Linked DNA regions of Homo sapiens: regions 2 and 3 are each linked to region 1. The links come from fine-mapping of genetic effects on gene expression. A gene starts in region 1. Each other region holds a variant in brackets. All regions are shown on one strand. Distances are from middle to middle.

Region 1 (8,172 bases):
CTGGTCTCAAACTCCTGACCTCAAGTGATCTGCCTGCCTCAGCCTCCCAATGTTCTGGGATTATAGGCATGAGCTACCACACCTGGCCAGGACATAGTTTTGTTTTTTTGGTTTTTGTTTGTTTGTTTGTTTTGTTTTTTTTTATTTTGAGATGAAGTCTCACTCTTGTTGCCCTGGCTGGAGAGCAATGGCTCAATCTCGGCTCACTAAAACATCCACCTCCTGAGTTCAAGCGATTCTCCTGTGTCAGCCTCCCAGATAACTGGGATTACAGGCATATACCACCATGCCTGGCTAATTTTTTTGTATTTTTAGTAGAGACAGGGTTTCACCATGTTGGCCAGGCTGGTCTTGAGCTCCTGACCTCAAACGATCCACCTGCCTAGGCCTCCCAAGTGCTGGGATTACAGGCATGAGCCACTACATCCAGCCTAATCTCATTAGGTTTTTACAGTGGGGTAGGGGTTATGGTTCCCATTTTACAGAACTGGCAGTGGAGGGTCAGAGAAAGGAATGAGGTGAATTTCCTGAGGTCACAGGGCTAGGAAGGGACCCCAGCTCTGCCTGCTTCCGGGTCCATTCTCTTCCCTCAGTGGGAAGGAATTTTGATGTTGGGGTGGGTGGCAGTCCCCGAGACAGTGTCTCCCCTTCCCTACTTTCCTGCAGGGCGTGGACGAGTGGATGTGGCCAGCCTGGCTGTGGGGCTGACAGGTGGCATCCTGCTCATTGTCCTGGCCGGCCTGGGAGCCTTTTGGTATCTGCGCTGGCGACAGCACCGAGGCCAGCAGCCCTGTCCCCAAGAGTAAGGGGGCTTCAGCGAGGAGGGGGTGGTGGTGGAGAGCAGGGGAGGGAGGAAGCATTGACCTAAAGGGATGTGCTAAGGATTGGGGGCAGGCAGGCACTGATGAAAGACCTAAGGACACAGTCATTTGGAGAGTGAGTCTGTGAGCTGGCTTGTGTCTGGTTTTGGCGACTGTCGCTCTGTCTGGATCCTCAGTACCTGGCCCGCAGTAGGAGCTCTGACCACTTTTGCTGCCAGCCTGTCTTTGCGGTACTGAGATTACCAGTATCCGTGGAATTACGACTCTGGATATTGTATCTGGTGAGGCTGCGACGGTGCAGCCTGTGGTGTCTTGGTGTCTGTGGTATGTCAGTTTCAGTGGTAACAGGTGCAGCACCTGAGTGGGTGTGGGAAATTGGTGAGGAGTGCGTCTGTGTTGTGTTCCTGTCTATATGGATGGGCTGAGTTCTGTCTGTTTGGTGTGTGTTGGCCTGCCTCTCTACAGGGCTGTCTTTTTTTTTTTTTTTTTTTTTGAGATGGAGTTTCACTCTCATTGCCCAGGCTGGAGTGCAATGGCATGATCTTGGCTCACTGCAACCTCTGCCTCCCGGGTTCAAGTGATTCTCCTGCCTCAGCCTCCAGTGTAGCTGGGATTATAGGCGCACTCCACTACGCCCAGCTAATTTTGTATTTTTAGTAGAGATGGGTTTCTCTATGTTGGTCAGGCTGGTTTCGAACTCCTGACCTCAGGTGATCTGCCCGCCTTGGCCTCCCAAAGTGCTGGGATTACAGGTGTGAGCCACCACGCCTGGCCCTTTTTTTTTTTTTTTTTTTTAAAAAAAGACAAAGTCTCACTCTGTTGCCCATGTTGGAGTGCAGTGGCCGGTTCACAGTTCACTGCAGCCTCAATTTCCTGGGCTCAAGAAATCCTCCCACCTCAGCCTCCTGAGGAACTAGAGCTACAGGTGTGCGCCATGCACCCGGCAGGGCTGTCTTTTTCTCTATTGCTCTGCCTGTATCTGGTGCACATGAGTGTGTCTGAATAAGAGTGTGTCTCTGTGGTTGCTGATTTCTGTGTCTACCTGTCTGTGTGCAGCTGCCTGTCATTTGAGGCGCTTTTCTGTGTGTAAGGCTAGGCTGAAGGTGACCCTCCTTTTCTGAAGTCCACCTCCCTTCCAGCTCTGTCCCAGTGTCACCCTGAGTCTCCGTCTCCTAGATCCCCTCTCTTCCTCCCTAGTCTAGGTATCCTGTAAGTTGCCTCTGCTAACTGTACCTTTGCTGTCCCCAGGGCCGGGCTCATTAGCCCTCTGAGTCCTTTGAACCCTCTGGGCCCACCGACGCCCCTGCCTCCACCCCCACCCCCACCCCCAGGCCTCCCCACCTATGAGCAGGCGCTGGCAGCCTCTGGGGTACACGACGCACCTCCACCCCCCTACACCAGGTATGGGGCGTGGCTTCTGCCCGGGGGCGGGGCGCAGAGGGGTGGGCACGTTGGAGGAGGAACCTGGGCTCAGGGGCGGGACTTGGAATTTGGGCCTTCTTACCTGGGGCGGGGCTTGGAGTGCGGGGGCGGGGCCCCATGCAATGGTCTAGGGGCGTGGCCCAGCGTTGTATGTGTGGAGCCGTATAGGAGGGTGGGGCCTGTGCCCAGAGGGTCCTGGATTGGCTGAGACGCCAAGGGCGGTCGGAGTGGTCCTGGTTGAAGGGGGGAGAAAAACAGCCAGATCTTTGACTCCCTAGTGTGCCTTTCCTCTTGCAGCCTCAGGAGGCCTCACTGAAGAGCTGCTTTCGAGACCCGGCTCTCCGAACCGTGCCCCTGATTCATACCGGATTCCGGAAGCCGCTAGGCCTCATAGACGCCGAAGCTGGACTTGGAGTGGGGAATGGTGGGAGTAGGGGTCATCCGGCCCGAGGCCTGCCCTGGCACACGCGTTTCCGCCGCGTATGGATATACACATGTTTTCGGCAACGTGTTCCCGTGTCCTGGCCCCTCACGGGCCCCCACACTCTCCTGACCGTGAGGGCACTGGTCAGTTCCGCCCCCGTGGTAGGCAGACGCGCGGGGAAATTCGGACCCAGGAGCCCAGCCCCGGCTGTGCCATCTTGTGTATGGGCAGATATGACCTGACAGCCCCCTCCAGTGCCACAGGGTACGCACACGCAGAGCCCCGCCTGTGCACACGCGTGTCTTCGTGCACTCCCCGTGCGGTACAGGGGCACTTCGTAACCCAGGGAAAGGGCGGGGGGCATATTTGCAAGCGCGCTCGGTGCGGGCAGGCTCGCATTGCACCCAGGGAGCTGGAGTTGAGCTGTTCCCCTAAATAAAAACCCTTCGGAAAGGAGACCAAAAAAAGCAGAAATAATGCAAAAAATAATAATGAAATGAACTGCGATCCCGGGCGCATCGGAACTGGTTTTCTGTGCAAACGCGCCCTACACCCCCAGGCCCTGCTCGCGCTCAGTCTCTCTCTCACTCTCCCTTTTTTTTTTTTTTTTTTTGCATTTGCACGGGATTGTGGGAGGAAGCGGAGCGCAGCCAGACACCCCGCCGCCCGCCCCCCCTTCCCCTCCCCCCTCCCCCAGCCGCCTTGTGCAAAGATGGCTGCACCGTGAGCGCAGAGGAGGAGGAGGCGGCGGCGGCGGCGGCGAGAGAGCGAGCACCCAGCGCCTGCACCCACCCCGGGGCCGCCCGGGACGCCCCCTCCCGAGCGCGCGCCCCCCCTTTTCTCTCGCAAGCGCCGGGGCAAAGGCGGAGACAGCGGGGTCCCTCCTCCCCCCTTCCCTCCTCTAGGGGGAACCCCCCTTCCCCCTTCCTTGGCTCAGCGACTGCACCCCCTCCCTTGCCCGCCCCTCCGCCCCTGCCCCCTCCCTCCCCCGCCCGGGGCCTTCCCGGGCCTTCGGCGGCTGCAAAGAAAAAAAGAGAGAGAGAAAAGGGGGGAAAAAAAAGCAGCAGCGGAGGGAGCGGCGGCGGAGGAGAGCGCGCGCGCGCCCCCTCCCTCCCTCCCTCCCTCCCCCTCCCCCCAATTTCCACCGCGGCCAATTCATGGACAGGAACTACCCCAGCGCCGGCTTCGGGGACCCGCTCGGCGCCGGGGCGGGATGGAGTTACGAGAGGTCAGCGAAAGCTAGGTAAGGAGCTGAGGGTGGCCTAGAGAAGGGGGCCAAGGGGTGGGAGCCCAGCCGGGCCGGGCCGGGCCGGGCCGGGCCCGCCCGGCGACGCGTGCATCGCAAACTCCCCTCCGGCTTGCAAGGGAGCGGCCTTCCTCGGTTTGTAACAACGCCGCCGCCCCAGTTTGCAAATTGCAAACTCCGCCAAAGCCAGCTCCGGCATGCAAAGGGAGAATTGCAGCGGGAAAATGGGGGTGCAAAACAATTTCGGACGGGAAGGCCTTGGGAAGGTGGGAGGGACTGGCGAAGCAAGGCCTGGACTTCCCCCCATCCTTGGATTCCCGGCTTGGTGACCCCTCCCCCCCGCGCCCCAGGCACTGCTCTTGCAAAGGTGGGAAGAAGAGAAGAATTAGAACGCAGATCTGGGGGGCGCGAACCCCCTCTCAGGTCCTATTGTTCCGGGACTGTGCGAGGCCGCGCCACTAGGCGCCCCCCCAAGAATTCCGCGCGCAGAGTGGGCACGGGGCCCCGCCCCCTTCCTAAGCTGGGGTTGTGTGTGTGTAAGGGAGGGGGTCAGGCGTCTGGGACACGCCCCCTTTAATGCCCCCACCCCCAAAGGCAGAGAATCCTAGTTGATCGCAAGGAGTGGAGCGTTTGCCCTCTTGAGTCTGGCCACGGACTGGTGCCGTTGCATGGGAAGAGTCGGATGTTTCCCGGGTGTGTGTTTGTGTGTCTGAGCGTGGGCCCTGTGCGTGCGTGGCTGGCAGCGTGTTCACCTGTGAATCTGCCCCTTTCCTGTTGCTTATTGGTGTGGCGCCCTCACACTTCACCTATCCCCAGCACCTCCCCCCCAACACACCTGGATTTCCCAGCAGGGCATAACCCCAAGTGTGTCAGGATTTTCCGTGTGGGATTCCTCCGTCTATATCTTTTCTTCCCCACGGGTGAGTTGGATACCCGTTTGCACACATACCTGGCATTGCATGGGCCCATGCATTTGAACCTCAACCCCCGGGGATGGTCGGTGTTCTTGTTCACACTTGTACCTGGTACTTTCCCCAGGTCTTATTCCCTCTTCTCTCCACCCCCCAAACCGTTGCCGCTTGGGAACCGATCTTCCTCCTGCTCCCAACTTGTTCTGCACCACCCCATGAAGTTCAGGGCCTATGTGTTCCCGTGTGTCTACGGAAGAGGAGGCGTCCATGTGGACCTCTGGCGTTGGCCCCATAGCCTGTGTCGCCGGAACGGGGGCTGGGGGGGGTTTGTGGGGTCGACGGGGGAGGGCTCTCATTTGCAAATCAAGACGCTTGCTCTGCCTTGGACCCTCTTCTGTGTGTTAGTCTCGTCTCTGAGCATGCCTGTTTGTAAACGTGAGACTATCCGGGCTCTCTTTATTCGGGCTCTGGAGTGGGGGCCATTTCTGTGGCTCTTTAGTTGAGCACCCCGATTCCCTTGTGTTCTCCCCTTTAGGGCCTACGGTTCCTTAGCTTAACACCCCCCACCCCGGTCAGCTGGAAGGGTCCCCCCAACTCCCCGGGGGGTTTTCTGAGCTTCCTTCTCAGAAGGCAGCTTGGAAGAACCCCCTGACGTCTCCCCTTTCCCCCCAGCTTGGTTTATGGCAGCTCCAGGACCTCGCACCCCGAGACGGACATCTTACACCGCCAGGCCTATGCGGCCCCCCACCCACTGCAAAGCTATGCCACCAACCACCACCCGGCAGGTACGGCCCCCATCCCGCCCCGCTTTGGGCTGGCCCTCCCCCTCCCCCCGAGGCAGCTGATTGGCTGTTGAAAGTTCCGCCCCTCCTAATTGGCCGTGGCCCGTGCCGTGGCCCGCCCCTTGCTGTGTCTCCTCTGATTGGTTGCCTTTGAGGCTGCTGGTCGCTGCTTCATTTCTCGCCGGATTCGTCCGCCCCTGCCTCGCCCCTCCCCTTTCGCTCCAATTGGCCCTGTTACCATCAGCCCCCAAATCCCACCTTCTCTTCCAGGCTTTTCCGCCTCTCCCCAACCCACCCCAATTCTTTCCCTCTGGGTTTGCCCTATTCTTTTGGCTCTTTGGAACTCTGAATTCTTTCTTCCTGATTCCCTTTCTTCCTGATTGGCTCTAATTCTCTGGCCCGCCCTGTTTTATCTTATTTTGCCCCATTGCCTTATTCTACCCACCTTGCCTTTGCCTCCAAGGTTTCTGATTGGTTCCCTCTTCCTAGGGGTACTGGTAATGACATGATGCTGTCCAGTTTGACCCTTGACCCTCCTGATTGGCTCCTTCCCTTTTTCCCTCCCCATCTTTTTTTCTGAACCCTCCCACTTAGCTCAATCCTTTCTGACACGTTCTCTGGTCTTTCTTAGACTTCATTGTCCCATCCTTTCCTCTTCCTTGCTGGAAATATCCAAATTTGGTCTCCCTCCCAGCCTTACTGAGGACTCTGTTCTTTTGCTCCTGGCTCTTTCGCTTCTAGATTTTTCTACACTTTTGTCTACCATTTCCTACCTGGGCCCCCTGTCCTTATGACTGGATTGCCCCTTGTCTTGCTTTACTGTCTCACCTTTCCCCCTTCCCTCCCCTCATTCATGTCTCATTAGCTTGGTTCTATCCATCTTGTTTTTGAATTTGCCCTTTTCTCTCCCATCCCCTCCTTTTCCTGATCCAACTTGCTTTTGGCCTCTTCCCTTTCTCTCTTGACTGTATCCTACCCACCCCCACCTGGCTGACTATAACCCCTGTCCCCGGCCAGGCCTCTCTGGACTCTTCGACACTGGCCTCCACCACGCGGGCTCAGCAGGGCCCGACGCCTCCGTCATGAACCTTATCTCGGCCCTGGAATCCCGGGGCCCCCAGCCTGGCCCCTCCGCCTCCTCTCTCCTCTCCCAGTTCCGCAGTCCTTCCTGGCAAACAGGTAAGCCCAGCGCCGGCCCTGCAGGGCCAGGGTGGGACTGGCTCGCTGTTCTCTCTGACGCGCGGTCTTCCTCATCTCCAGCCATGCACACGCCAGGCCCCACGGAGCTCTTCATCTCGGGTGCCCTGCCGGGTTCCAGCACCTTTCCGTCCTCATCTGCCCTGTCGGCTTACCAACACCCGGCTTCCTTCGGCAGCCGCCCCTTCCCAGTGCCCTCGTCCCTCAGCCTCCAGGACCCCCCATTCAGCCCTCCAGCTAACGGGCTCCTGTCCCCTCATGACGTGCTGCACCTGAAGCCCTCGCAGGCACCCACGGTGCCCTCTTCACTGGGCTTCGAGCGCCTGGCAGGGGGCGGTGTCTTGGGGCCAGCTGGTCTCGGTCCAGCCCAGACCCCCCCTTACCGCCCTGGCCCCCCAGACCCACCACCACCTCCTCGCCACCTCCCAACTCAGTTCAACCTGCTGGCTTCCTCTTCCGCTGCCGCCGCCGCTGCCGAGCAGTCCTCCCCACAGCTCTATAACTTCTCGGGTGCTGCCCCGGGCCCACCGCCGCCTGAGCGGGCCCTGCCACGCCAGGACACGGTCATCAAGCACTACCAGCGGCCAGCCAGTGCCCAGCCCCCACCACCCCCGCCACCAGCCCATGCGCTCCAGCACTATCTGAGCTGTGGAGGCAGCTACCCCTCCATGGGCCACCGGGCCAACCTGGCCTGCAGCCCCCTGGGTGGTGGGGAGCCCTCCCCGGGTGCTGGGGAGCCTAGCAAGGCTGGTCCCAGCGGAGCCACGGCTGGGGCATCTGGCCGGGCCACGGGCCCTGAGGCAGCAGGGGGCGGTGGGGCTGGGGGTGGTGGTGGAGGTTACCGCCCCATCATTCAGTCGCCTGGGTACAAGACGGGCAAAGGTGGTTATGGAGCAGCTGCCGGGGGTGCCACCAGGCCCCCCCCACCCCGTTCGACCGCCACCCCCAAATGTCAGAGCCTGGGTGGGCCAGCAGCCGCCTATGCCACTGGGAAGGCCTCTGGGGCTGGAGGGGCAGGGGGCCAGGCTTATTCCCCCGGTCAGCCTCAAGGGCTTCTGGGACCCCAGGCCTACGGGCAAGGGTTTGGAGGGGGGCAGGCACAGGACTTGAGCAAAGCCCCCAGCTACTCAGGGGGCCCCCCACAGCCCCCCAGCGGCCCCCCTCCTCCTGGCCTGGCCACATGTCAGAGCTACTCCCCGGACCAGCTGCAGGGGCAGCTGTATGGGGTGCAGGGCGAGCCATACCCAGGGCCAGCCGCCCACTCCCAGGGGCTGCCCACAGCCAGCCCCTCGCTCAGCTACAGTACCGGCCATTCCCCAGCGCTCTCGGGCCATGGGGGTGGCTGGGGACCCAGCTCCCTGGGAGGCGG
Region 2 (8,172 bases), 41 kb after region 1:
AGACGGAGTCTCCCTCTGTTTCCCAGGCTGGAGTGCAGTGGCACTATCTTGACTCACTGCAACCTCCGCCTCCCAAGTTCAAGCGATTGTCCTGCCTCTGCCTTGTGAGTAGCTGGGATAACAGGTGCATGCCACCACTCCCGGCTAATTTTTGTATTTTTAGTAGAGACAGGGTTTCACCATGTTGATCAGGCTGGTCTCGAACTCCTGACCTCATGATCTGCCCTTCTTGGCCTCCCAAAGTGCTGGGATTACAGGCATGAGCCACTGTGCCCAGCCAACCCTATCTCTCTTAAAATTACAGAAATTAGCCAGGCATAGTGGCTTGTGCCTGCTACTCAGGAGGCTGAGGCAGGAGACTCGCTTGAACCCGGGAGGCTGAGGTTGCAGTGAGCCCAGATCGCGCCACTGCACTCCAGCCTGGGCAACAGAGTGAGACTCCATCTCAAAAAATTTTAAAAAGGATCATGAACTTTCTAGAATCATTGAGTTAAGAGGGCTGAGTACAAACCATTATTGTGCTTGAACTGTGGCCTATAGCATGTGGGGGTGCAGCCTTTGATGGAAAGCCATACATTCAAGGTCCTGGACTAGACTGTCAAACTGAGGCCAAATGCCAGGTGACAGTGGCTCATGCCTATAATCCCAGCACTCTGGGAGGCCAAGGCAGGAGGATTGCTTGAGTCCAGCCTGGGCAACATGGCGAGATCCTCATGTCTCCAGAAAAAAAAAAAAGCTAAAATTGAGGCCAAAGGATTGGCATTGTCCCAGGTCAGAGTTCCAGGATGGAAAACGGGTGGAGTATTCTTTTTCTTTTTTCTTTTTGAGACAGAGTCTCGCTTTGTTACCCAAGCTTGGGTGCAGTGGCATGATCTTGGCTCACTGCAACCTCCGCCTCCTGGGTTCAAGCCATTCTTCTGCCTCAAGCTTCCTGAGTAACTGGGACTACAGGCACGTGCCACCAGGTCCAATTAATTTTTGTGTTTTTAGTAGTGACGGGATTTCACCATGTTGGCCAGGATGGTCTCTAACTCCTGATCTCAGGTACTCCACCCGCCCTGGCCTCCCAAAGTGCTGGGATTGATTAGAGGTATGAGCCACCGCGCTCGGCCGGGAGTGGAGTGTTGTGAGCGTGGACAGTGAGGTCAGGAATCATCCCTTTAGGGACAGAATCACCTTGTGGTTGGCCTTTGGCATCCAGCTGCCCAGATTAGAATCCCAGCTGCAGCACTAACCAGGCAGATTGGGTAACAGACCCCATCTTCACCTTTGCCATCCATTAAATGGGCTTTTGTCAAAATGAAGGAAGACAACCGGTTTGGAGCACCTGGCCTGCAGCTCCTGTGACCTGTAGCAGGAGATCTAGAGAAGCTTAACAGAGGTCCACAACATGACAGAAAACAAAGAGACACAGAGAAAGATAAAGATGGGGACATTGGCCGGGCGTGGTGGCTCACACCTGTAATCCCAGCACTTTGGGAGGCCAACGTGGATGGATCACCTGAGGTCAGGATTTCGAGACCAGCCTGGCCAGCATGGTGAAACCCTGCCTCTACTAAAAATACAAAAATTTGTCGGGTATGGCCGGGCACAGTGGCTTATGCCTGTAATCCCAGCAAATTGGGAGGCCAAGGTGGGACGATCATCTGAGGTCGGAAGTTCAAGACCAGCCTGACCAACATGGAGAAACCCCGTCTCTACTGAAAATACAAAATCAGCCGGGGTGGTGCGCATGCCTGTAATCCCAGCTACTCAGGAGGCTGAGGCAGGAGAATCGCTTGAACCCGGGAGGCGGAGGTTGCGGTGAGCCGAGATCGCGCCATTGCACTGCAGCCTGGGCAACAAGAGTGAAACACTGTCTCAAAAAAAAAAAAAAAAAAAAATTTAGTCGGGCATGCTTGCCGGTGCCTGTCATCCCAGCTACTTGGGAGGCTGAGGCAGAAGAATTGCTTGAGTCTGGGAGATGGAAGTTGCAGTGAGCCAAGATCACGCCACTGCACTCCAGCCTGAGCGGCAGAGTGAGACTCCGTCTTGAAAAAAAAAAAAAAAGATGGGGACATCAAAACCTGGAAAGCTTTAGAATCGTTGCTAGGGCCTGCCAGAGCTCAGGGGAGGGGAGGAACCGAATACATAATTTCTGGCACTAACAGTACCTAGGGAGATGCCAGCCTTTTTGCTGTTGTGTGTTGATCTTTGGGACACTGGTGGCTGTAAACCTTCCAAAAATGGTCTGCCAGTTGTCTTGAGCATTTGGGGGGCAAGCGGTAACTTTAATCACCTTCTCAAAGTGCATCTTGGTCCTACTAGAAGCAGGGTGCCCCAGCCAAGAAGTTGGCCCCATCGGGCAGTGCAGGAAAGACTCTGATCCTCTGCAGGGGGCATGTGGATGGTGAGATCTGGGAAGAGAGATGTTGGCACAGGACTCCTTCCTGTTGGGGGCTCAGTACCCGCAGCTGGGGCTTAGGTGGAAGTGTCAGAGCTTGTTTGGAAACTGATCAAAACATTGCCCACCCTCTTGCCCCACCACTCCCCATCCAGCAGGGGTGGACCCCTGGTGTGCAGAGTTCCTAGCAGGGAAGAGAGCCAACATGTGACAGTACATCCGAGCTGTACTTTTTCCCAGGGCAGAAGGTTGAGAACAGGCCAAAGATTCTGTGATAATAGAACCCGGAAAGGGATATTTAGCTAATCAGTTTTTTTTTTTTTTTTTTTTTTTTTGAGACAGAGTGTCGCTCTTGTTGCCCAGGCTGGAGTGCAACGGCACGATCTCAGCTCACTGCAACCTCTGCCTCCCGAGTTCAAGCGATTCTCATGCCTCACCCTCCCAAGTAGCTGGGATTACAGGCGCCCGCCACCACACCCGGCTAATTTTTGTAGTTTTAGTAGAGAGGGGGGTTTCACCATGTTGGCAAGGCTGCTCTCGAATTCCTGACCTTAGGTGATTCGCCCGCCTTGCCCTACCAAAGTGCTGGGATTACAGGCGTGAGCCACTGCGCCCAGCCTGCTAATCCGTGTTCTAATCCGGGATACAGAGGGACATTCATGGTTCTGGGGCAGAATGGAGACATGTCAGCCACAGTCATTGATGGTGAGCACTTAGTATGCGCCGGGCTCATTCCTCCTCTGCAATCGTCTCCTTTAGTCTCGTGCTCACCCTGTGAAGTAGCTTTGTACTTACCCCCATTTTACAGATGAGACTGAGGTGGCAGAGCTGGATTTGAATTCAGGCATCCCGGTCACGCAAAGGCCATGCTCCACCCTAGGACTAGGAAGCAGGTTCCAGGGTGGGTGCGAGTAGAGCATTCAGGGATCAGGGGCCTGGGTATAGGGAGCAGATGTTTGACTGCTGATAGGTTTCAGGTGGAGCCTCAAGTTCAGGGCATCGGGACATCTCGGTTGAGGTGTTTTGTTTTGTTTTTGTTTTTTTTGAGATGGACTCTCGCTCTGTCGTCCAGGCTAGAGTGCAGTGGCGCAATCTCGGCTCACTGCAACTCCACCTCCTGGGTTCACACCATTCTTCTGCCTCAGTCTCCTGAGTAGCTGGGACTATAGGCGCCTGCCACCATGCCCAGCTAATTTTTTGTATTTTTAGTAGAGACGGGGTTTCACTGTGTTAGCCAGGATGGTCTCGATCTCCTGACCTTGTGATCCACCCGCCTCAGCCTCCCAAAGTGCTGGGATTACAAGCATGAGCCACCGCGCCCGGCCGGTTGAGGTTTTTAGCCTGGTGTGTTGGGTAGATTTGGGGCTTTAAAGATGGCCGGTCACACAGGCTTGGGAGGTGGGTGGACAGTGGTCTCCAGTTGGCTTCAGCCTTCCAGGGTAGCAAATAGTGGGCAGGACTGCTCCTCCCCCAACCAGAGCTTAGGTTGGATGTGGGAGAGTCCTAAGTGTCCCCAGGCTGGGCATGGTGGATCATGCCTGTAAATCCCAGAGCTTTGGGAGGCCGAGGCAGGAGGATTGCTTAAAGGGAGGAGTTCAAGACCAGCCTGGGCCACATAGCGAGACCCCATCTCTACAACAAAATGAAAAATTAGCCAAGTGTGCACTCGTAGTCCCAGCTACTTGGGAGGCTGAGGCAGGAGGATTGCTTGAGCCCAGGAGGTTGAGGCTACAGAGTTGTGATCACGCGACTGCACTCCAGCCTGGGCAACACAGTGACACCCTGTCTCAAATAAATAAATAAAATGTAAAAAACGAAGTGTTCCTAGGACACAGATGGGCTTTGGGTATCCAGACTGAAGTGTGTCATCCATTTACCCACTGTGGCCTTAAGACAC[C/T]CAACACTTCTGCTTCTCCCAGGACAGAATAGGGGGTTGGATGGGGGATGTCCACACTGACCCCAAATTGGATTAAGTGTTTAGATTCAGATTTCAGTGCTACTGGGAACTTTCTGAAAATGAGGACTTGCCAGACGGCTGCTTGGACACCATTCCACCCACCTGTCCCTTCTCGATATACATTGAAGGTGAGAGTGGGACAGGCAGGGTTTGTAGCAGTTGCTCCCTGTCTCTATTTTTGTAGACAGAGTCTAGCTCTTGCCCAGGCTGGTCTCAAACTCCTGGCCTCAAGTGATCCACCCATTTCGGTCTCCCAAAGTACTGGGCTTACAAGCGTGAGCTACCACACCCAGCTGAGTTGCTGCCTGTCTCCAATGTCCTAGAACGTTCTATTGGAATGTTCTAGAAAGCACTATCCAATAGCCCACTCAGCAATGATAGGAATGTTGTCTATCTGCCCTATCTATTAAGATAGCCACTAGAGGCTGGGTGCGGTGGCTCACGCCTGTAATCCCAGCCCTTTGGGAGGCCGAGGTGGGCAGATCACTTGAGGCCAGGAGTTCCAGACCAGTCTGGCCAACGTGGCGAAACCCCGTCTCTACCAAAAATACAAAAATTAGCCGGGCATGGTGGCATGCGCCTGTAGTCCCAGGTACTCAGGAGGTTGAGGCAGGAGAATCACTTGAGCCCAGGAAACAGAGGTTGCAGCAACTGGAGATCCTGCCACTGCACTCCAGCCTGGGTGACAGAGCGAGACTCTTGTCTAAAAAAAAAAAAAGTCACTAGCCACATGTGACAACTGAGGTCTTGAAATGTTGATTTGACTGAGGAACTAAGTTTTATTAAAATATTTTTTATTTTGTTGTTGTTGTTGTATTTGAGACGGAGTCTCGCTCTGTTGCACAGGCTAGAGTGCAATGGCACAATCTCGGCTCTCTGCAAACTCCACCTCCCGGGTTCAAGCTATTCTCATGTCTCAGCCTCCTGAGAAGCTGGGATTACAGGCGCCCACCAATGCGCCCGGCTAATTTTCGTATTTTTAATAGAGACAGGGTTTCACCATGTTGGTCAGGTTGGTCTTGAACTCCCGACCTCAGGTGATCCATCCGCGTGGGCCTCCCAAAGTGCTGGGATTACAGGCGTGAGCCATCGCGCCTGGCCTTTATTTTTATTTTTTTTATTTTTTATTTATTTATTTTTTGAGACAGTCTTGCTGTCGCCCAGGCTGGAGTACAGTGGCATCACCTTGGCTCACTGCAATTTCTGTCTCCCAGGCTCAAGCGATCCTCCTACCTCAGCCTCCTGAGTAGCTGGGACTACAGGCATGTGCCACCACACCCAGCTAATTTTTGTATTTTTGGTAGAGATGGGGGCGGGGGGGGGTCTCACTTTATTGCCCAGGCTGGTCTCGAACTCCTGAGATTAAGCGATCTGCCCACCTCAGCCTCCCAAAATGCTGGGATTACAGGCATAACCCACTGCATCCAGCCAAATTTTATTTAATTTTAATTTAAATAGCCACATGTAGCTTCTGCCTACCATATTGAAGAGCGCATTCTATAACTTTCTAGGAAAAAAAATTCCTTCATCAGATGTTCAAAGTTTATCCCAAGAAAATACCCATAAGGTCAAGAGATTGAGACCATCCTGGCTAACATGGTAAAACCCCGCCTCTACTAAAAATACAAAAAATAAATTAGCTGGGGGCGTGGTGGCATGCGCCTGTAGTCCCAGCTACTCGGGAGGCTGAGGCAGGAGAATGGCATGAACCCAAGAGGCGGAGGTTGCAGTGAGCTGAGATCACACCACTGCACTCTAGCCTGGCTACAGAGTGAGACTCCATCTCAGAAAAACACACACACACACACACACACAAACAGAAAAGGGTAGAATCGCCCTGTTGAAGGGAAAGTGGGGGGTCTAGGCACTTGGTTATGCTTTATAAACTTCTTCTGCTCCTCCCCAAGCAATAGGTTCTAGATGCGAGGGTTCTAGGTGGAGGGAGGCCTTAGAACATGTGTGCCCTGAATTCGTTCACCTTCCCAGAGTTCATTCCCCCACCCTTTTTTTTTAAGAGATGGGGGTCTCGCTATGCTGCCCAGGCTGGTCAAAAACTCCTGGACTCAAGCGGTCCTCCCGCATTGGCCTCCCAAAATGCTGCGATTACAGGAGTGAGCCACAGTGCCCGACCCTCATTACCTTTTTAGAAAGCACCTCCTGACGTTGGCAGTGACATTTATTTTTCTGGGGGAGGGGAGTTATATACAGCAGTGACCCGGAGCCCCTCACCCCCACCAGGCTTAGGTGGGGACAGGAGGCGTTGGCAGAAGGCACACAGTGGCAGTAGCCCAGAAGAGGCCAGGAAGTAAGGGTGGGTATGTGATGTGTCCTGGGAGACCCAGATGAGGAAATTGAGGCTCAGTGAGGGCCTCAGGTCACACAGCAAGGTGCGAAGGCAGCTAGTCCCGAGAGCTTGTGGTGGTTGCTTCTCTCTTGCCTGGGCTACAGGAGGACGCAGGGGCAGCCCCCGCCCTTCTTCCTGGGGGCACTGGGAGGGCTCGGTGGGAGCTCTTGTTCCTGGTATTTCCTGTGGGAAAACGCCAGTGAGTTTGGAGTGGAAGGGCTGGGGACAAGGACGACAGGAAGGGGACTTGGCTCACCGGACAGCCCGCACCAGCTGCTCAAAAGCCTCGTCCACGTTGAGACGCAGTTTGGCCGAGGCCTCAAAGTAGGCCACGTGGTGGGAGGCGCCGAAGGCAGAGGCTTCTGATCGGGGGACCTGGGGGTAGGGGGGACACGGGGGAGTCAGGTCCCTGCACTCAGGGTGACCGCAGCCAGAGAGACAGACAGGCAGGCTGGATACTCTAGGAGAGGTGACCCACTGTGAGAACTCAAAGAGGAAGAGCTCCTGAGAGATTATGGAGGGAGATGCCGCAGGGGCTTGGTGTCTTCTAAGTAAGGGATGGGGGCAGGCTTCGTGGGCACTTGCCCTGCTATGCCTTAGATAACCAGGAGTGGGCAGGCAGGGAAGTCAGGGTGTTCCCGGCAGAGGCAGGCGGAACCCCAAAGCCTGGAAATCCCCAGAGCCTTTGCCAGATGGATGAGTTCTGTGTGGAAATCGTTGTGGGGGAAGTGATGGGAGCAGGGAAAGGAGGGGCGCAACTGTGCGGGGCATCTGGCACCTGGGGAGGAACTGGGGAGCCATGGAGGGGGCCGGCCATGAGCAGGGGAGGTGCTGGGGCTGGTGGGAGGTTGGCTGGAAGGGAGGAATGCGAGGAAGGGGCAAAGAGAGCTGGCGGACGGGGGGTGAATGTCCTTTGTTCCGTCCAGCAGCCTCTCCTGAGGACACTTGCATGCTAGGCCCTCTGCTCGGTGATGCCGGGGACCCTGAAGGTCCAGTTTGGGGGTAACCCATCTAGGTGAGCTGTGTGACAGTGGCAGTCGCAGCACTGCAGGAACAGAGGAGGATGCTGATGGGGGACAGGTGTGCTGGAAGGAGCCTCCCAGACTGAGATGGGGTCCCCAGAAAGAGGGGTGTCCCGAACCTGGCGCTGTGACTCCAGATCTGCCTTGTTCCCGACCAACACAACGGGGAAGTCGTCGCGGTCCTTGACCCGCAGAATCTGCGTGAAGAGCTTGCCCACCTCGTTGAAACTGCGAGTGAAGCCGGAGGCATGAGGTCCAGCCAGCTGCAGAGCCCAGGTCCTCCCCACACCCACCCACTGCTCCGCCACCAGCAACCCCTGTCACCTCTGCCGGTCGTTAATGGCGAACACCAGCAGGAAGCCGTGGCCAGCACGCATGTACTGCTCTCTCATGGCCCCGAACTCTTCCTGGCCCGCGGTGTCCAGGACTGCAGAGACAGGGAGAGGGGCCATCGTGGGGACCAGGC
Region 3 (8,172 bases), 960 kb after region 1:
GGGGGAGGCCTCCCCCTCCCCCGCTAATCAAAGGCTCCGTTATCTAATTAACCCATTGGTTCTGGGCAGCCGAGGAGGCAGCCGAGGAAGGTCGGGGGAAGCGGGGGAGGAAGGTTGCCGGCTGGGCTGCCCAAGAAAGGGGGGTGGTTGGGCCGTGCCAAGCCGGAGCCTCATGGCACACAGACAGCCTCGTTGGCTGCATGACCGGGCTGGGCCACCACTGACCCCCTCGCCCCCACTTCCAGCCAAAACCCCCCAGCTTCACACCCCCCACTGGGTCTAGGCACACAATCTTGCCCAGCGTTTTCCTGCAGATGCCCCTGTACCCCAGGAACTCCTTTGAACCCCCACCATGCCACACAGCCTTTACTCCAACCCTGATATACCACACCTGATATACCGGCACTGGAACCTGCGCCCTGCACCGTCACCCCGTCCCGTGGCTGAGGGCCAGCCCCTCTCCATGCCACAAAGGCCCCCACCCCTAGAGGAACCCCTCTCCCTTGGACCTTAGCCAGATCCTGACATCCACCTCCTGACACACTTCTGCAAAATCTGCAGGGCAGCCACGTTCATTCATTCAACTTATCCGCCCATCCATCCGTCCATCCATCCGTCCACCCATCCGTCCATCCATCTGTCCATCCATCCATCCATCCATCCATCCATCCATCCATTCATCCATCCGCCCATCCGTCCATCCATCCATCCATCCATCCATCCATCCATCCATCCATCCGTCCATCCATCCGCCCATCCGTCCATCCGTCTATCCATCCGTCCTTCCATCCCTCCGCCCATCCATCCACCCATCCATCCATCCATCCATCCGTCCACCCATCCATCCTTCCATCCATCTGTCCAACAAATGTCTACCCAGTCCCTGCTATGTGCTAGACACTAGCCCAGGACACCCATGGGCCACAAAAGGCACCTCTCGAGAGTGGGGCACATTGGTGAGTGCCGAGAGGCCTGGGTTTGAGTCCTGACTCTGCTGCCACTTCCCGTGTAACCTCGGGCCGGTGGCTTATTCTCCCAAGCTGCAGTTCCCTCCACTGTGAAACAGGGATAATGGGAGTATCTGCCTCCTAGGGCCACTGTGGGGATTAAATCGCTAAATCCTTGGTAAAGAGTTCTGTCTTCACAACATATGCGGAATCAGACCCCAGAATCAGAGGATCTTTCTCCCCACGCCCAGGCTACTTCCCTGACCTGGCTCCCATCTCCCTCTTGAACGATTACAGTGTCCTCCCCTCCAGCCTCCCCATTTCTGCCTTCACCCCCACTCCCCGTGCGTTCCCCACGGGCAGCGAGGGGTATCCTGTCAACACCCCATGGACCCTGCCCCGCCTCTGCTCCACAGCCTTCCACAGCTCCCGTCCCACTCAGAGCAGAGATGAGGACTTCAGTTTTCAGGTCTCCACTCTCCACCCCAGCTCCTCCTCTGACCTCATCGCTTCCCTCCTCCCCCTGCTCACTCGCTGTTTCCAGAACAGGCCGTGCACACCCCGGCCCCAGGGCCTTTGCACCTGCTCTTCCCTTTTCCTGGAATGCTCTTTGCCGGTTGTCCACAGGGCTCTTGCCCTGCTCTCTATCAGGTCCGTGCTCCAATGCTACCTTCTCAGTGAGGCCGTCCTGACCGCCCCGCATCAAACAGCACCCCTATCCCTCTCCAGAACCTTCTCTGTTTCCTTTTTCTCCATGACATTTATCAGCATCTGAGCTTTTATATGGGTCCGTGCGCTTGAAGGCAAGTTTCCCGAGGGCAGTCAGTTTGTGACTATTTGGTTCCCAGGACCCACAACAGTGCTGGGCACATGGCAGTTGCTCACCAAACACTGGGTGCAGGGACGGATGGGTACGTTATCATCACTGTGAGTCTATTTCCCCCCACGCTCACACACAGATACCCCCACTCTCCGTTCTGCACACCGAGCCAGGCCGCACTGCAATAGCTGCACAATGCAGGCTCCCAGCCCTGGACACCCTCGGTCCCCAGGTCCCCTTCCATCCCAGGAGGCCTGCTGGCAGAGGCAGCACCTTTTTTTTTTTTTTTTTTTTGAGACAGAGTCTCACTCTGTTGCCCAGGCTGGAGTGCAGTGGCGCGATCTCAGCTCATGGCAACCTCTACCTCCTGGGTTCAAGCAATTCTCCTGCCCCAGCCTCCTGAGTAGCTGAGACTACAGGCGCTCACCACCACCCCGGCTAATTTTTGTATTTTAAGTTAGAATCGGGGGTTTCACCATGTGGGCCAGGCTGGTCTTGAACTCCTGACCTCCAGTGATCCACCTGCCTTGGCCTCCCAAAGTGCTGGGATGACAGGTGTGGGCCACCGTACCTGGCCGAGGAAGCACACATCTCACGTCAGCTGGACACCAATGTCCCGGGTCACCCTCCATGCCCTGGGTCACCCTCCGTGCCCCAGCACCACCCGGATGGCTAAGTCCCAGATACTACACCTCAGGTTCCAAACAGGAGGTCCCCAGCGCAGCTCCGTGCACCCAGAGGAAAGCTACCACTCTGCCCAAACCTCAGATACCACCTGCGTGAGCTACACTCCTGGATACAGCTGCATACTGAGAGGGCACCTGGCCCCAGTTGTCCCCAGATAGAGCCCTCTGACCTGGATAACAGGAATGCTGGCTAACCTCATCTCTTCCGCACACACATCTGACTTGCGTGAACTCACTGAATAATGACACCACCAAAGGTGGTAACGTCCAACACACATCTGGCACTGACTGGGCACCATTCTGGGAGCTTTACTTGCATTAGCCACCGCAGTTCACATCAACCCTCTGAGAGAAGACTGCTATTACACCCAGTTCCCAGCTAGCAAAGCTGAGACACACAGAGGTACTGTTAGTTGCCTAATGCGAAACACACGGCTAGGAAGTGGCCCCTCCTAGGTCAGCCTTGCCAGAGTCCAGGGGCCCCAAAGACCCCCAAGTGTGGCCTGACAGCAGCAACAATTCCCATGGAGGCTGCCTGTGTGTGGGGGGCAGGGTGCAGGCAAGGCCACAGGCATGCTGAACAGCCACCCTTCCTCAGCCCCTGCAGTCACCCGCACTGCACAGGATATCACACGCCCGACACCCCACCACGGCTTCACGCCCGGCTGGCAGAGGCTCCATGGACTGCCCTCTGCCCCCACGCACCCCTAGTAGTGATGGGAAATACTGATTACATGTGGGTGCCATGCTATCCACTCCTCAAGCTGCTGGCTTCTCCCCACGGCCCTGGGAGGAAGGGATGGTTCTTGTGCCCATTTTACAGATTCAGAGGTGAGCGGCACTTGCCAAAGGTTACACAGCCCTCCAGCAGCACAGCCGGCATTGGAACCCCAGTCCCAGAACTTAGCCAGGTCACCACGGTTGCCTCTCCCACCGCAGCTGCCCCGGGAGAGGACCCATCACAAGGGTACACCTGTTCTCCTCCCTCACCTGGTGCAAGGAACAAGCCAGAGGTGCAGACACAGAAGGACCCCAAAGAGGAGAAGTACGAGGGGCAGAGAGTGGCAGAGTCACAGGGAGACAGACACAGGCATACAAAGGGGCATGAAAGGGGCAGGAGGACAGGAGGCCCCGAGATGGAGCTGAGATCCAGGCGAAGGCAGAGGCTGGGAGGGCCCGGGCACTCGAGGCGTGAAGCTGAGTCCTCACCGGCTTCGCCATCCTCCCCAGCCCCAGCTCTGAGAGATCTCGGGCACTGTGCCTGGGAGGATTCAGGCAGATGGCAGATCGGAAACTCGGGGACCCAGGAGAGGCGGGGTGAGGAGAAATGGGAGGCAGGGAACGTTCCTGTCAGGCGCACTCATTTTTTGGGGTGGGGTGGGGGGCTAAATTCAGACGGCCAGAGGGAAGATAGGAAATTGACTACCATTGCAGCAAGAGGCCTGGAGGTTAGAGCTAGAGAAGAACTTCCCCACTGCGAGGGACTGGGGCAGAAGTGGAGCCTGGAGCCCAGAGGGTGGAGAGGGATTGAAGCCGGGGAGGGATGAGCCCTTCTGTCCCTGGAAGCCGGTCCTATGGGAGAGACCCGGGTTCTGGGGGAGGGGACAGGCAGCGCTGGCGTTCTGAGCCAATCCATGTCCTGAATGCTTTCAAAATAAAAGCAGCCCCACAGCGCCGAGAATTGTCAGGCTTCTATGTCTGGAGGTAGAAGAACCTTAGGGAAAGGGCAGTCCAGGCCCCCTAGGAGCTGCTGATGAGGAAGCAGGACTAGGGGCTTGGCTCAGCTCACGAATTTCCCGGGCCACTGGCCACTGGGCAGCAGGACCAACAGGCGGCCCGTGCAGTGGGGGTGCAGTCGGGGTGGGGGTGAGGTGCAGTGGGTGGGGGTGAGGTGGTGACTTGCTTGGAGGGGGGCTGTCCTTTCCCGTGCAGCCACGCCGCTCTCCCCCAGGCTCCTCCCACCCACCAGGCGCCTCCCACCCAGGCTCTTCCCATCCACACCAGACCCGTTCCCCTGAGGGGACTTTGCCCCTGCTGTGCCCTCGGCCAGCCGGGGGTGCTCTTCCTGGGGTCAGGGGGGGCTCTGCGTTCCCACGACACCTCCAGGAGGTCTTCTTTGAGCTCCCCCTACCGTCCGTATCCCTTGCACTTCCTTTTCTTCACAGCTCGTGTCACGGCCACCCAGCACCTGATGCTCGGTGATTTGTTCCTGCGTTCATTGCCTGCCTTCCTGCTAAGAGGGGAGC[C/T]CCTGAGGGCTTTGCCGCGGCGTCCACGGCTGCATCCTCAAGGCCGGCCAACGGCGCTGGCCCCTCCGAGCCTCAGTATTTGCTGCAGGAACGAGCGAGCCAGCGCCCCCTACCGGCAGTTCCTCTGCTGGCACCCGAGGCAAGGAGCCCTGGGTCTCTAGGGAGGCAAGTGTGGGGGTGGGGGAGCCGTCCGAGGGCTAAGTGAGAGGGCGGGCACAGGGTGGGCCCCGGAACGTCCAGGAGGGAAGCCGGGAGGAGGGAATGTCGAGCTGTTACAGAGGCCGTGGCAATGGGCCGGGGGCGGGGGGGCCCTCCTTCCTCTCACAACGGGCTGTGACAACAGAGGGGCAGGCTCAGCTCTGGTGGGTGAAGGACCCCTCTGAGTGGACTGGAGCGGCGCGGCTGGAGGCCAGGGAGGAGCTGCGCCAGGGGTCCGGGGGTAGAGGATGAGGCCGCGGCTGGAGCCACGGGGATGGAGAGAAGGGAAAGAGTGAACAGATAAAGCAAATTTGTAAAAGTGGCAGAACCTGGAGGCGGTGTAGGAGGTGAGGGAGAGGGAGGAGCCAGGCTCTTCTTATAGATCTGGGGTCAAATTCCAAAAGCCAGAAGAGGATGTGGGGCGGGAAGCAGTTACGGGGAGAAGAGAATGCAAAAGTCCCTGCCACAGGCCCCCCAGCCCCAATCTCCACTCACAGGCGGTGCCTCGCTCTGGTCACACCCACAGGGCAGCAGGGGAGCTGGGGACACACCGCCCACCCGGCTCCCGTCCAGTCCCTGGCTGTGCCACTTTGGGCCAGCTGCAGCCTCTCTGATGATGCTGCATGGGGCTGTGGCAAGGGGGCCCAAGTAGGGCCTGGCACACAGCAAGTGACCAGCAAGTGACATATAGGACTCGGAGCCTGGCTGGAAGCCAGGAAAAGCAGAAACCTGGGCTCCGACCCCCCGGTGCTGCCAATTTTCCGCTAGGAACAGTACCCTGTGGCCACTCAGTTTCCTCATCAGAGAAATGGGAATTAACAGCAGGTTTCAGAAGAGGGCTGGGAGGGCTGGGTGGGGGGTGGTGGGGACCCAGGAAGGGCTGAGGTGAGCTATTTACCAGCCAGCGGAGGACTACACTTGACCCTTGAAGGACAGGGGTTTGAATCGTGTGGTCCACTTATATGTGGACTTTCTCCTGCCTCTGCCACTCCTGAGACAGCAAGACAACCGCCCCCTCCTCCTGCTCACAGCCTACTCAACGTGAAGACAATCAGGGGAGCCCGTTACGATGATACACTCCACTTAGTGGCTAGTAAATGTATTTTCTCTTCCTTAGCATTTTCTCAATAACATTTTCTTTTCTCTAGCTTACTTTATTGTCAGAATTCAGGATAGAATACATTTAACATGAATGTGTTAACTGACTGTTTATGTTATTGGTAGGGTGTCCAATCAACAGAACACTATTAGGAGTTAAGTTTTAGGGGAGTCAAAAGTTACAGGCAGATTTTCAACTGCACAGGGGGCTGGCACCCCTAGCCCCCAAGTTGGTCAGGGGTCAACTGTATACATACACACACACACACACACACACACACATACACACACACATACATACATACACACACACACATCACACAAATTTCTGCTGGAGTGCAGTGGCGTGATCTCAGCTCACTGCAGCCTCCACCTCCCAGGCCCAGGTGATCCTCCCACCTCAGCCTCCTGAGTAGCCGACTACAGGCGTGGACCACTACACCCGGCTAATTTTTTTGTATTTTTGTAGAGATAAGCTTTTGCCATGTTGCCCAGGCTGGTCTCAAACTCTCGGCCTCAAACAATCCTCCTGCCTCAGCCTCCCAAAGTGCTGGATTATAAGCGTGAGCCACGGCACCCGGCTGTATTTCAATATATCAATGCATCACTGTCAAACAGACTCTCTGCAATGATGCAAATGTTCTCTCCGTGCTGTCCAGCACTGGTGGCCACCAGCCACACGAGGCTACGGAGCACGTGACGTATGTCGAGAAGGAGCAGGGACTGAATTCTTCATTCGACTTGATGTGACTGTTGCTGCTCATGCATGGCAGTGGCTGTGGCAGCTACTGTGTTGGACAGCATGGATCTAACCACTGATCCTGCTTGGAACTGCTTCTGCCTGAGTCCCTGAAGTGCCGCTCCGTCTGCTCCTTGGCCCTGCCCAGCTACCTCACAGGGCTCTTATGGGACTCATGGAGAAGCCAGGGAGATCACAGCTGGAGAAATGGAATGTTATGGAGAGTCTGAGGCCTGAGCACCTGACCAGCGCTGCCTTGGTTGCCTGTGCCAGGCCTGCGCTGCGGGAGCTGCCTGCAAGAGCTCATTCAGTCCCCGCAAGGGGCCCATGGCGAGAGCTGCTGCTGCCCATTTTACAGAAGGGCACACTGAGGCACTGCCATACCCATGGATAGCCAGATTTGGGTAGGCTTTGAGATAAAAACTGAACTTCCAAAAAAAAAGAAAAAGAAAAAGAAAAAGAAAAGAGGGCCGGGGGTGGTGGCTCACGCCTGTAATCCCAGCACTTTGGGAGGCCAAGGTGGGCGGATTACCTGAGGTCAGGAGTTTGAGACCAGCCTGACCAACATGCTGAAATTCCACCTCTACTAAAAATACAAAATTAGCCGTGCCTGGTGGCGGGCGTCCATAATCCCAGCTACTGGGGAGGCTGAGAAAGGGGAATTACTTGAACCGAGGAGGCAGAGGTTGCAGTGAGCTGAGATGGCGCCACTGCACTCCAACCTGGGCAACAGAGCGAGACTCTGTCTGAAAAAAAGGAAAGAAAAAAAACTGAACTTCCAGGTCCCTGGACTGTGATTCTGTGCTGGGATGGGGCGGCTTAACACCCCTGAACTGAATTCACCCCAGAAGAGAACTGGGCCCTGGCCTGGCATTGGTGGTTTTTACAACAGTATTTGTTGCCAAGGCTCAGGCAGTGGGGCGTGAGAGCGAGTTTGCAGGTTGGGAGGGGCGTGGCCCCCGCCAGCTCCACTCATAGGGGTCCTGCCTAGGAAGGACGCTGATCCGATCTGTTTTCTCTCACAGGGTTGTGCATAGTTATTTTGTTTACAACAAAAGGGTGCTGCTAAAAGTCATAAAAAGCTGAAAACTATGTGAACTGGAGCAATGCTTCTCAGACATGAATGTGTGTCCAGCTGTCTGGGAATCTTGTTAAGAGGCAGATTCTGGCCGGGCGCAGTGGCTCACGCCTGTAATCCCAGCACTCTGGGAGGCTGAGGCGGGCAGATCACTTGAGGTCAGGAGTTTTGACACCAGCCTGACCAACATGGTGAAACCCTGTCTCTAATAAAAATACAAAAATTAGCTGGGCGTGGAGGCACCTGCCTGTAGTTCCAGCTACTCGGGAGGCTGAGGCAGGAGAATCACTTGAACCTGGGAGGCGGAGGTTGCAGTGAGCCGAGATCGCACCACTGTACTCCAGCCTCGGTGACAGAGTG

What was found.
Region 2: its variant is fine-mapped to the expression of PRR12 in whole blood (TOPMed, PIP above 0.99).
Region 3: its variant is fine-mapped to the expression of PRR12 in gastroesophageal junction (GTEx, PIP above 0.99).

The regions. Positions count from the first base shown.
Region 1 is chr19:49,587,831-49,596,002 of GRCh38, forward strand. PRR12 (proline rich 12) reads left to right here and starts at 3,352. Exons shown (of 14, transcript NM_020719.3): 1 at 3,352-3,910; 2 at 5,497-5,609; 3 at 6,624-6,785; 4 at 6,867-8,172. The coding sequence starts at 3,825. It overlaps PRRG2 (proline rich and Gla domain 2), which reads left to right. Exons shown (of 7, transcript NM_000951.3): 5 at 667-802; 6 at 2,070-2,222; 7 at 2,541-3,174. The coding sequence ends at 2,559. RefSeq lists enhancers at 897-956, 4,024-4,523, 5,011-5,090 and silencers at 2,171-2,270, 2,281-2,440, 3,301-3,630, 3,791-4,040, 5,601-5,700.
Region 2 is chr19:49,628,794-49,636,965 of GRCh38, forward strand. It overlaps RRAS (RAS related), which reads right to left. Exons shown (of 6, transcript NM_006270.5): 3 at 8,031-8,133; 4 at 7,826-7,934; 5 at 6,941-7,059; 6 at 6,499-6,867. The coding sequence ends at 6,783. Among named protein-coding and RNA genes, the nearest start is that of RRAS, 7.3 kb to the right of the region's middle. RefSeq lists enhancers at 3,783-4,282, 7,402-7,968. The variant C/T (reference allele first, on the strand shown) is at 4,281.
Region 3 is chr19:50,551,951-50,560,122 of GRCh38, forward strand. All of the region lies in intron 1 of LRRC4B (leucine rich repeat containing 4B), which reads right to left. Among named protein-coding and RNA genes, the nearest start is that of LRRC4B, 12 kb to the right of the region's middle. RefSeq lists an enhancer at 1-723 and silencers at 4,312-4,421, 4,522-4,581. The variant C/T (reference allele first, on the strand shown) is at 4,700.